Homo sapiens: one gene and its partner. The main gene of each other region encodes a partner of the protein of the gene in region 2 in a complex. Each region holds a gene or a part of one and is shown on either strand. Other genes may lie near its edges. The genes, in order: RBM22 and BCAS2.

Region 1 (7,292 bases), on a different chromosome or scaffold from region 2:
AAATAAACCCATGACAACATGTGAAAAATTGACCCGTTTTAATTATTTAAAAACAAAAAACACATCAAATTTCCTTTACCATCTACAATTCAGTTATATCCAAACACTCTAAGACCAAACAGAAGCAGGGATGACAATGAGACACTGAAGACACACGAAGGTGAATGCTGAAGACCATCAGAGTCCCAGCAGGAGGTCACGTCTTTCATTCAGACGCTCCAATGCTTTTCATTTCAGTTTGTTAAAGAACGTGTTTTACAGGAAGTTCTTTACAGTAATTTCATGCCAGACACCAGGTTTCTTCGATGGTACACAGCTCCATGAAATTTGTGTTTCCATCCAGTTGACAGGAATAAAAAGGAATTTTTATTTTTGTCTTTTTTTGGGCCGTAGAGACGTAAAATGGTCAGATTCCTTTAGGAATAAATGAGGAAAAGGAGAGGAAAGAGAAGATCTGGGCTGTGCTGGTGCTGGTTTCTACTCATCTTTCGGAGGGTGTGACTTCAAGAGTTAAATCACACTTAGGCCACTACAATGATTAGTACTAGTTATCTTTTTTTAAGATGATAAAAAGGAAAGTATCCAATGGACATAAAAATGGTCAAAGGTTTTTTTACTGCAGGTCAATTTTTCCCCCGACCAAAAAATATACAAAATGAACATATAATTGGGAGGGTAACTCTGCTGGACATTCCAATTCACTCATCTGCGTGTCCCCCACACGGGTAAGGGGAACAGGCGTTCGGTTTTATTAGTCATGTTACAGCAGTAACCAGATGTGTTAATGGCAGCTTATTTACGGTCCATCGATCCTTTGAACAAGTATAGGAAAGCATGGCTGTCAGTCTCTGACTGCTCACATCTGAGCACATTCAGCTACCATGGAAACTACAAGGGAAGGAAAAATATATTTATTCCAAGATTTACTGGGAGTTTTAAGTGCCCTTTCTTCCACAGAGCCCCAGAGTGGTGACAAGGTGCTAGGGGCTGCTGTGTTTTCCAGCATGAGCTCCCATCCTCTGAGGGTCCTGAGAAGGATAGTGGATTGGTCCTGGAGCCCGCATGAAAGGAGGGGGTGGTCCCATTGGGTGGAACATGTGTGGCCCAAAACCTGCAGATACGAGAGAACAAATGTGTTAGGCTGGTAGTTTCCTTGATAACCTTTCAAACCTCTCAATCTTGCTAAGGTTAAAACCACCTACACATAAATCAAGGTTGACACGGGGCTTAAGCAAATGTCAGTTCACAAACTTACTTCCACTTGTTATTTCCTTGGTTTTAGAAACCTTTCCCCCACAGTCCAAAAAACTCCACAGCACTCAAGGTATCGCCTAGTATGTCATCTGAGTCTCTGCTATGTATCCAACATGCCAAATCCTACCAGACAGGATTCAGTCAGGATTTGGGAGATAAGAAAGAAATCAGGCTGATGGCAAAGACTGTGTCATCATTAACCTCAATGCTTGACACCAGAATGGAGGGTGCTCAGAAACCAGATTCTCTTCAGAGTATGGGCTCTCTGCCACAGGAGAACTGGCTACCTGTGATTTCCTTCCACTGTTAACACTGTCTACAGCAGTGCTATACGAAGTGCCAGTCCTCCACCTATTTCTGGCCACTCAAGACAAAGAGCTTGAGTCAAAATGTAAATTATACGACCAGGCACAGTTTAGTTCATCTGACAGTTTTTTTGGTAACAAGACTTTCTCAATGAAGGAAGGGGTTCACTGATTACATTTTGGCACAAGCTCCTGATCTTGTGGCAGACAGGTGATAAACACTTTGTAAAATGACACCCGCTCACAGCCCACACTGGGCAATAGTGCTCTAGGGCATCCATTAGCATTTAGTTTAGAAAAGGGAACAAATTGGTGATAGATCTTTGTAATCTAATAATCTTACTCTGCTGACACATATACGCGGATCTTTAGAAAACTGGCCCCTTTCTTCTCCTCGGCAGAGCAGGAGAAAGAAAAATTTCAGAAATCCCAACAGATCAACTTTACTGGTAGACTTCTACAGAGCAAACTCACAGGATTTGGATGTGTTGAACATGATGGTGAGGTTTATGAGACAGAACTTTCACAAGGATTTCTCTGGGCTAAGAAGGAAGATGGAAGTTACCTGGGGGTGGGGGTGGAGCAATGCCAGGGGGCGGTGGCAGAGCAATGTTCACCACAGCTGGAGGACCACTTGGGGGCAAGTTGAAGTAGTTGGCAGAGGCTTCTTCTTCTGCTGCAGGAGGAGGAGGAAGAGCTGGAGGAGAGAAAATAGTCAACACATAGAGGGGAGAACAATTGTGCAACGCTGTTTCTACCACCTTTACATTCTCAGAGGTCCTACTGGGAGAGTAGAGCGGCAACATGAACCAGACCTGGGTCCCATCTTCCAAAATAGGAACATCAGGGCAGAAAGAGCTTCTGAAGTCAGCAGGGAGTCTGCACTCACCTCCTGGCAATCCTGGAACAGGTTCTAGTTTGATCCCAGAGTCTGTAGTTCCATCTTTCTCTTTTTCTTTTCCTCTGGCTGCCTGGGATCTGGGAAACACACATGCATACAGTCGGCACTCTGGCCCACCTTATCTCACACCTCTGCTTCTTACATTCCCCAGTCCAATGGAGTTCCTTCGCTCTACCTCCTCCTCAGCACACACTCTTTTCCCATAAATGCCACTGTGCACAGTGAACAAGAGCAAAGGTTTTGACACCAGAAAAGACCTGGGTTCAAAAGCTGCTAGAACTATCATAAGGACCAGAAAAGGCAACACATACGTGTTTAGCACAGTGCTTACCACATAGGGAGCGCTCCACAAAGGCAGATGCTGCTATTAGCCATCACTTCCCTGGTTCCAAGTTGGAGACATGTTCCCCCTTTGAACTGGGTCTTTCACCTGTGTCTCTCTTATGCAATCATCACTTTTAAACTTAAAATAGCGATTCTTCCCTGTTTTATCTTCTCCACTGGACAATCAGCCTCTAAGGGCAGAATCTAGGTCTAATTCATTTATAAACCCTAAAATTCACCTTTCATGGCCTGGCATTATACTTGGCCTATAATAGCTAGTCACAAAAACATGAACCTTCAAAGGAGTAGATTATACACCAACCCCCTGAATACATTTCCAAAGCAGGGTTCTCCCAACATCCACAGGAATCAAGTATCACATAGAGAGTGATCTTTGAAAGATCTCTTTAAAGATCCTGTTCATTTAAGCCTGTTAACCAAAAGCCTACTAGTCTCCAGAAAATGAAATAGTTTCTTAAAAATCTAAGCAAAATGTCACTTAAAAATAGTTTAATTCTCACCTTCCCCATTTCACATTCAGTCTGCGGCCATTTACAATCAACTTATTAAAGGACTTCTCAGCAGCCACTTCTGCAGCCTGCCGTGTGGCAAACTGGATGAAAGCACACTGCTGTCTCTGCACAACAGTGATCGTCCGGATCTCTCCGAACTGGTAGAAATGATTTCTGAAGGGAAACAGGCAGAGAAAAATGAAAGTGGGAGTTAAAAAAGATGTACCCAGGAGACTGAAAATGGATTAACTTTCACTGACACACCACTAGGCAGGTGGGCCCCAAGGTTATCTGCCTAACTACCCGCAGGTCTCCACCCCATATCTTGTCCTACTGTGGGTGCTGCTGATTGAGAGAAGGAAAGAAAAATAATGAGTAAATAAAGGTTCTCAAACATCTCAGGGTTTTTTCCCATGGAGGAAAGGGGGTTCTAATAGGTTCTTTAAAGACCCTAAACCCTAGATAAGAGGTTGGCAAACCATAGCTCTCAAGGCCCATGAGCCAAGAAAGTTTAAAACAAGAATACGTGACAGAGACTGCATGTGGCCCACAATGCCTAAAATATTCACCATCCAGCCTCTTACAGCGAAAGTCTGCCAACCCCTGGGGGTTGTCTAGCTCACTTAGATAGGGTTTAATGGAGACAGGCTACCAAGGGCAGGTTATAAACTTACAGGAGTTTCTTCTCCACTTTATCTCTTTGGAAGAGGTAATTTCCATTACTATCTGCCCAGAAGTCTCATCTAGCCAAGCATAATACAAGCCAAAAATAACACAAATTTATCAAATGCCAGTCTCTTTAAAAACCAACAATTTAAACCACAAGAGTTTTATCATCGCAAAGCTCTCCCTCCTCTACATAATTCATCATACTTGGATGCGTGCCATCCTTTAAAACTTGGCTGTTAGGTCAAATAGAATCCTATGTCATTATTACCATATGCCAGGATGGATAAGCACTCTTTGAGCTTTGGTTCTGAGACAGGGTCTCACTCTGTTGCTTAGGCTGGAGTGCAGTGGTGCAATCACAGCTCACTGCAGCCTTGATCTCCCAAGCTCAAGCAATCCTCCTGCCTCAGCCTCCCAAACAGCTGGGACTACAGGCACATGCCACCACACCCGGCTAATTTTTTTGATTTCTTAGTAGAGATGTGGTCTCACTATGTTGCTCAGGCTGGTCTCAAACTCCTCGGTTCAAGAGATCCTCCCAAAGTGTTGAGATTACAGGCATGAGGCACTGTGCCCAGCCACATAAGCACATTATTACTGTGGCACCATAAAGGACAATTTTACAAAAATTCCAGTCAGCATGATACTAACAATAGAGAGACTACAGAAAAATGTATTTTGTACAGAATGATCATTCTTGCAGTTTTTGCAAATAAATTATTCCAGGGCAGTTAAAGGCAAAAATAACTCTCTAACTTATACCCACAAACCTTAAATCTGTCTCAGTAATGGTATCACCTAGACCACCAACATATAGTGTGGTGATAGTTTTATCCTCTGGTGGGTCCAGCCGAGGCATTGTTGAAGCCCGCTTTAGAAGCTTGTCAGCTACAGGATCATTGATTCCGTAATAACGGTCTTTAATATTCTGATCAGCAAGGGGGTCATCTGGATCTGTAGGCTTCTCATGTCTATGATTCAAGAAAAAAACAAGGCATAAAGGTGAAACGAAGGTGAAAAAATGATTATCTTCCAAGAGTAGCTACATATTAAAGTCCTAGATACATATTCTGAAGTGCCTTTTGAACTAGAAACTATGGTTTCTACCAAAATATAATTACCAAAATAGACCTAATACCAAGAGATTTACTGTATCACGGAAGGAATTACTAGCCTCCTAAAAGCCATTAGGCCATCTAGGATGCCAAACTTTCCTTATAAATAAATACTCTTGACATGATCCACCCCCTCCCGCCCCCCAGAAAGGGACACATGATTACCCCTCTCTAGGTCAATGATTCTTAACACATTTGGGGTGCTGTATTCCACTGAGAATCTGATTAAAGCTATGAACCTCGCCCCAGAGAAAGCACATACATTATTTTTTAGGGGGTGGGGTTAACCAATCCCAAATTAAGAACTCCTAATCCAGATGCTTGGCAGTCTTAACCAAAACATACACACCCTTTAGAAGTCTGACCTTACTTTGACTTCAACTATACATTGAGAGTCAACTCATTTAAACCATGGCAGTGAAGATTTACTTCTCAGGCAGAAATGTTTAGGGTCAGCATCTATATTGTATGGCATAGCAATTTAGTTTCCAAGGCTCAATTGTAAGTAAAAACTACAATTTATTCATGCTCTTCTAAATTTCATAGTTCTAAGACATGAGGTATACCACATTAGTTGTATGACCTTTAGATTTTAAAGCAGAAACAGTTTAAGTTAGGACCTCCCACTTCTTAGATGAGAAATCATCTGAAAGCAAATACTGAAAATGAGGCTCGCTCTTGCCTGTATGGACATTCCTCTCCTCTCTTACACTCTCCTTTCACCCAGAAGGAGCAAATGTGGGGTCGATTCCTTTTGTAGTAGGGTGTGGTCCGGGCCAGTTTGAGCAGCATGTCACTGGTAGATGTGGCTTTCCCCAGCATGCCAACTGGCCGTGTTCCATCAGAGTTAGAAATCTAAGTGGGGATGACAAATTCAAAAGATAAATTATACAGACTGTGTCAATTCATTAGGATTTTTATCCAAAAAGTGGCAGCATACCTCTCTCTCCATATTCTGTGTATAGTACTCTTTGTTGACATCTGACTTTGGCATGTCATCTTTAAAAGACAATCCTGCGTCACGAACCTGGATGGGCAGGCCTGGTACAAAAAAAGAGGAAAAAGACCTCAGATGTATTTTAAAACATATCCATACTAACCATGCACACAGAATACATCATCTTTCCCTTCTCCTCTTTCCTATTTAGTACCAGAGACTTTACTATGTTTTTATTCAAACTCTTTAGCACCATCAGGTTACTTCTGCTACACAGCATGCTAAGAAATTGTCCAAATTCCTGAACTGTCAGGAAATTTGATGAAATTAATGCTTTAGAAAAAATCTTTTAGGCTGGGTGTGGTGGCTCATGCCTGTAATCCTAGCACTTTGCAAGGCTGGAGCTGACAGATAGCTTGAGTCCAGGAGTTCGAGACCAGCCTGGTCAACGTGGTGAAACCCCATTTCTACAAAAAATACAAAAATTAGCTGGGTGTGGTGGTATGCACCTGTAGTCCTAGCTACCCAGGAGGCTGAGGTGGATCACCTGAGCTTGGAAAGGTTAAGGCTGCAGTGAGCCATGACCATGCCACTGCACTCCAGCCTGGGCAACAGAGTGACACCCTGTCTCAAAAACAAAAAACAAAAAAATTATAAAAGAAAATTTTTAGATGAACAAACTGTGCCCATGGTCATATTCAACCTGTAAATTAGCTCCTAGTTTTTATTACAACATGATTTATTTAAAGTAAATGTAAAAGTGGTTTCTTTCTAGGTTAGTCTTACAGATCCTCTGGATAGTCACAGTCATCTAAGGGTCACTGTACTCCAGGACCAGACGCCTCCTTAACAAACATATAAATAATATTACATAAAATGTGGCCAGGACTCTGACTAGAAGAGTAACTCTAATGAACTTAACATACATAAACTCATATATTTTTCCCTTTCCTTTAATAGTAAAAACTCTTGTTGAAAAATTATCTTTCTGAAAAACAGTCACCTATGGTTAAAAAAAAAATTACTCCCAAAAGCAGTTACTCTGAAACAGTAGCAATATATCAGTTCTAACAACACAATTGAAATAAAAGTCTAAAGCACAATTAGGCTGGCTATAGTGGCTCTGGGAGGCCAAGGTGGGAGGACTGCTTGAGGCCAGAAGCTCAAAACCAGCCTGGGCAAAATAGTGACACACACACACACGTGCACTGGGTGTGGTGGTATACCAGGAGGCAGAGGCAAGAGGATCCCTTGAGCCCAGGAGTTCGAAGTTGC
Region 2 (4,851 bases):
ACAGTTTAAGAAGTGACAAAAGGCCGTGTGGCTCACACATGTAATTCCAACACTTTGGAGGCTGAGGTGGGGAGATTGCTTGAGCCCAGGAGTTCAAGACCAGCCTGGACAACGTGGTGAAACCCTGTCTCTACAAAAAAGTAATGAAAATTAGCCGGGCATGGTGGCTTATGCCTGTAATCCAAGCTACTTTGAAGGCCTGAAGTGGGAGGATCAGTTGAGCCCAGGAGGTTGAGGCTGCCATGATTGCACCACTACACTCCAGCTTGAGCAACAGGAGAGCAAGACTCTGTCCCTCCCCTCCGCAAAAAAAAGCTGGGTACAGTGGCTCACGCCTGTTATCTCAGCACTTTGGGAGGCCGAGGCAGATGGATCACTTGAGGTCAGGAGTTCGAGACCAGCCTGGCCGACATAGTGAAACCCCATCTCTACTAAAAAAAAAAATACAAAAATTAGCAAGGCATGGCAGTACATGCCTGTAATCCCAGCTACTTGGGAGGCTGAGGCAGGAGAATCTCTTGAACCAGGAAGCAGAGGCTGCAGTGAGCTGAGATCTCACCACTTCGCTCCAGCCTGGGCAACAGAACGAGACTGTCTCAAAAAAAAAAAAGTAACCTAAGTACTCCAAGATCAGGCAGGGCATGGTAATCCCAGCAGTTTGGGAGGCCAAGGTGGGAGGATTGCAGCTCCTTGGGAGGCTGAGGCAGGAAGATTACTTGATCATGGGAGGTGAAGGCTGCAGTGAGCCATGATCACACCACTGCATTCCAGCATGAGTGACAGTCCTCGATTATGGAGTGTCCAACATAGTTCTTGGCACAGAGCTCCATAAATATGATTTTTGGCAGAAAAACTTGAAAAAGTTCACTTTTAATTGGTACTATTTTAATGTATTTTAATCTGATTTTCCTCTTTTCCTTCAGAAATCTAGTTCATATGATTGAACACGCACAGAAGGAACTTCAGAAGTTAAGGTAAATTGTTTTTTCCTATTACAGAATGAAGTTTAAGTGAACCTTTAATAAATAGAAAATAGGAGGAAAAAGAAAGCAAAGAGACTGCAGCCAGATGAAAGTAAACAATTGATCCACTCTCTTTGTTCAACATCTGACACTGGGTTTGCCCTACCTAAGTAGAGGAGAAATAGGCCTGAGGTCTGAAAACATCTCTGCCACTTGCAGCTTGCAAGTCTGCAAACATAGAAAGGCACTTTTAGAGTGGGAAAAGTTGCAGAATAACACATATAATCTGATTTTTAAAACCAATTTCTACACACACATATAGGAAAGCCTGGAAGGACACCCAGCAAAAACTCAACAGGAGTTATCAGGAAAAAGGAGACATGCATGAGAGGGGGGACTTGAGACTTGTAATCTGTGTGTGCTTGTGTGTGTGTGTGTGTGTGATTTCTCACAATGAGCATGTTTTATGAAACTTGTAATCAAAAAATAATTAGAAGAAAGGTAATTTCTACAGTTAGCCTATAACTGTACATAATATTGTTCTCATGGGATTAAGATATTCTCTTGTGTTATAGAGTTTTCTGTTGATTTAGGTCTTACATTAAAATGTAATTGGGTTGTATAAATAATTTTTTACAGAAAACATATTCAAGATTTAAACTGGCAGAGAAAGAACATGCAACTCACAGCTGGATCTAAATTGAGAGAAATGGAGTCAAAGTGAGTATCTATAATTCCATCATCTTTTAAATTGTTTAGCCCTTTCTAAGGTCGATTCAATAATATGATTCAAATAGCATTCAAATGGGATGCCACAGGTAACAAAGAAATGCTATTTTCTGAATTCACCCTTCCCCGTCTCTGCCTCTTTATAAGGTGTTAAAGAGAACTATAAACGAGAATTGAACCATTGGCGAAGGATCCTTTGCTAAATTGAACCATTGCTAAAGGATTCTGGTCTTAGAATACCCTGTTTTTAGTCTAGTATTTTTGGCCTTGAATAGAACTCTACCTTTATTCTCCTTTTAAACGGAAAAAAAAAAAAAATAGGCACGGTGGCACATGTCTGTAGTCCCAGCTACTCTGGAGGCTGAGGCAGGAGGATTGCTTAACCTGGAAGGTTGAAGCTGCAGTGAGTCATAATCACACCACTGCACTCCAGCCTGGGCAACAGAGCAAGACCTAGTCTTTAAAAAAAAAAAAAGGAAAAAAATTATTTTATAAAATCTTGTAGGGAGGGAGATTTCATACTTGGTAATTTTTTTGTACCTCAGGTTTATGCATTTTTAAAAATGTTCTTTTACATACACACATGTATACCTTTATACAATATAATCTTGAATATTTGTGTCATTTCTCTCTTCCTTTTTGCTTGGCCATTCCCTTTCTCCCTTCATTACTCAAGTCATTCTTGTTCCACCGTCTCCATGTACGTCTTACCAGTCTCGTTGGTACCCTTTCACGCTTTTTCCTCAATTTAATAAACTATTGCCTCTTTCCTTTTTGTTGATTAAATACTATCTTCATCACTCTTTCCTCTTTCTTCTGGTTTGCAAGTTCTCTCATCTGTTTCTAATTTGCTTTTTTATTAAACTTTTATTTTTAGATAATTATAGATTCACATGCAATTGTAAGAAATAATACAGAGAGCCAGGTGTGGTGACTCACATTGTAATCCTAGTGCCTTGGTAGGCCAAGGTAGGAGGATTGCTTGAAGCCAGGAGTTCAAGCCAGCCTGGGCAACATAACGAGACCCTGTCTCTACAAAAAAATGCTTTTAAATGAGCCAGGCATGATGGCATGCACCTGTAGTCTAAGCTCTTCAGGAGGCTGAGGTTGGAGGATTGCTTGAGCTCAGGAGTTCCAGGCTAGTGAGCTGTGATCACACCACTGCATTTCAGCCTAGGCAACAGAGCAAGACCCTGTCTCTGGAAAAAAAAAAAAAAAAAAAAAAAAGAATACAGAGAGATTCCATGTACCCTTTACCTACTTTTCCACAATTGTGCCTTGATTTTTTTTTAATGGAAAGTTGAAAGTGAAGGTTAGGCCAGGCATGGTAGCTCATGCCTGTAATCCCAGCACATTAGGAGACCGAGGTGGGTGGATCACCTGGGGTCAGGAGTTTGAGACCAGCCTGGCCAACGTGGTGAAACCCCATCTCTACTAAAAATACAAAAAAGTAGCCAGCTGTGGTGGCGTGTGCCTGTAATCCAGCTACTCGGGAGGCTGAGTCAGGAGAATCCCTTGAACCCGGGAGGCGGAGGTTGCAGTGAGCTGAGGTTGCGCCATTGTTCTCCAGCCTGGGCAACAAGAGCGAGACTCCGTCTCAAAAAAAAAAAAAAAGTGAAGGTTAGTGTTATAGCTCTGGGTGAACATGTGTATACATTTAAAATAAAATCTTCTAAGAGAAGTTTTACATTGAGTAATTTTTTTCTTTTCTTCCCCCCCATTCTAGTTGGGTATCCCTGGTCAGTAAGAATTATGAGATTGAACGGACTATTGTTCAGCTAGAAAATGAAATCTATCAAATTAAGCAGCAACATGGAGAGGCAAACAAAGAAAACATCCGGCAAGACTTCTGAAAAGACAATTTAGCAGGTAGAAGAAAAGTTGGGCTTTCACAAAAGGCATCTGAACTTTTAATGAACTTTGAAGGACAACAGCATCTTCCCAAAACCATTGATGTTTAAGTGTTTAGAAATCATAGAAGGTGTAGGCTGCTGTGGTAATTCTATTTGTATATCTCAACAGAATTAAAATGTCTAGCTTGGTGGTATTTTTATAGCCATAAAAGAAAATCTTTAGGCTTTCAAAATAAGGATGACTTTAGAATAATATTGTGTCATAGAATTAATTTTCAGCCATGTGGACCATATTTTGTATCCAAGGATCCTTATTTAAAGCTTTCAACATGTACAGGAAGTTGGAAATTTTTGGTTTATGACTTTGTCTAATAAAGAGATAGTTCTAAACACATTCTTGATCACCAAACAACTTCAGAAAGACAGTGACTGTACAGTTATCATTATCATCATCATCGTCATCATCATAGGTAACAGTTATATCAAGCTTAATATGTGCTGAACATTGTTCTGAACACTTTAGGTAGATGAACTAGATGTATGTGAATAAAAATTATTTGGTCCTCACAAAAACCTCAGGAGGCGGTTACTGTTTTTCTCATATGTGGACATGTAACAGACACCAGTTAAATAACATAACTTGCCAGAGTTTTATAGCTGAAAGTGTCAGCTTTTTTATAGAAAGTTGTCAGTCAGGTTTTGAACCCAATAGTCCAGCTCCAGAGTTAATGTTCTTACTTCTCTACTTGTAAGGAATTAAATTGTGTAAAAGATTCCTGCCCAATTCAGAAAAAATATTTGCAACATATCAAAAGGTAGTGTTGCTAGGTGTGGTGGCTCACGTCTGTAATCCCAGTGCTTTGAGAGGCTGAGGCAGGAGGATCACTTGTGTCCAGGAGTTCAAGGCCACCATAAGCTATGATTGTGACACTGCACGCCAGCCTGGGTGACAGAGCAAGACCCTGTCTCAAACGAAGCAAGGTAGTCTTAATGTATAAAGACTGACTGAAAATTATTGCAAGGTCAGTGGCTCACACCTGTAATCCCAGCACTTTGGGAAGCTGAGGTGGGCAGATCACGAGGTCGAGAGATCGAGACCATCCTGGCCAACATGGTGAAACGTCATCTCTACTGAAAATACAAAAATTAGCTGGGCATGGTGGCATGCGCCTGTAGTCCCAGCTACTCGGGAGGCTGAGGCAGGAGAATCGCTTACACCCAGGAGGCAGAGGTTGCAGTGAGCCGAGATTGCACCACTGCACTCCAGCCTGGCGACAGAGTTAGACTCTGTCTCAAAAAAAAAAAAT

The links.
Region 1: BCAS2 (region 2) and RBM22 share a complex: the UniProt entries of both Homo sapiens proteins name them as parts of the postcatalytic spliceosome P complex.

The regions. Positions count from the first base shown.
Region 1 is NC_000005.10:150,690,771-150,698,062, forward strand, and holds the end of RBM22 (pre-mRNA-splicing factor RBM22), read right to left. Parts: intron 6,122-7,292; coding exon 6,021-6,121; intron 5,936-6,020; coding exon 5,763-5,935; intron 4,937-5,762; coding exon 4,736-4,936; intron 3,471-4,735; coding exon 3,306-3,470; intron 2,538-3,305; coding exon 2,449-2,537; intron 2,257-2,448; coding exon 2,125-2,256; intron 1,112-2,124; coding exon 981-1,111; 3' UTR 22-980; downstream 1-21. UniProt on the Homo sapiens protein: Required for pre-mRNA splicing as component of the activated spliceosome. Involved in the first step of pre-mRNA splicing.
Region 2 is NC_000001.11:114,566,823-114,571,673, reverse strand, and holds the end of BCAS2 (pre-mRNA-splicing factor SPF27), read left to right. Parts: intron 1-923; coding exon 924-974; intron 975-1,601; coding exon 1,602-1,682; intron 1,683-3,417; coding exon 3,418-3,544; 3' UTR 3,545-4,117; downstream 4,118-4,851. UniProt on the Homo sapiens protein: Required for pre-mRNA splicing as component of the activated spliceosome. Component of the PRP19-CDC5L complex that forms an integral part of the spliceosome and is required for activating pre-mRNA splicing.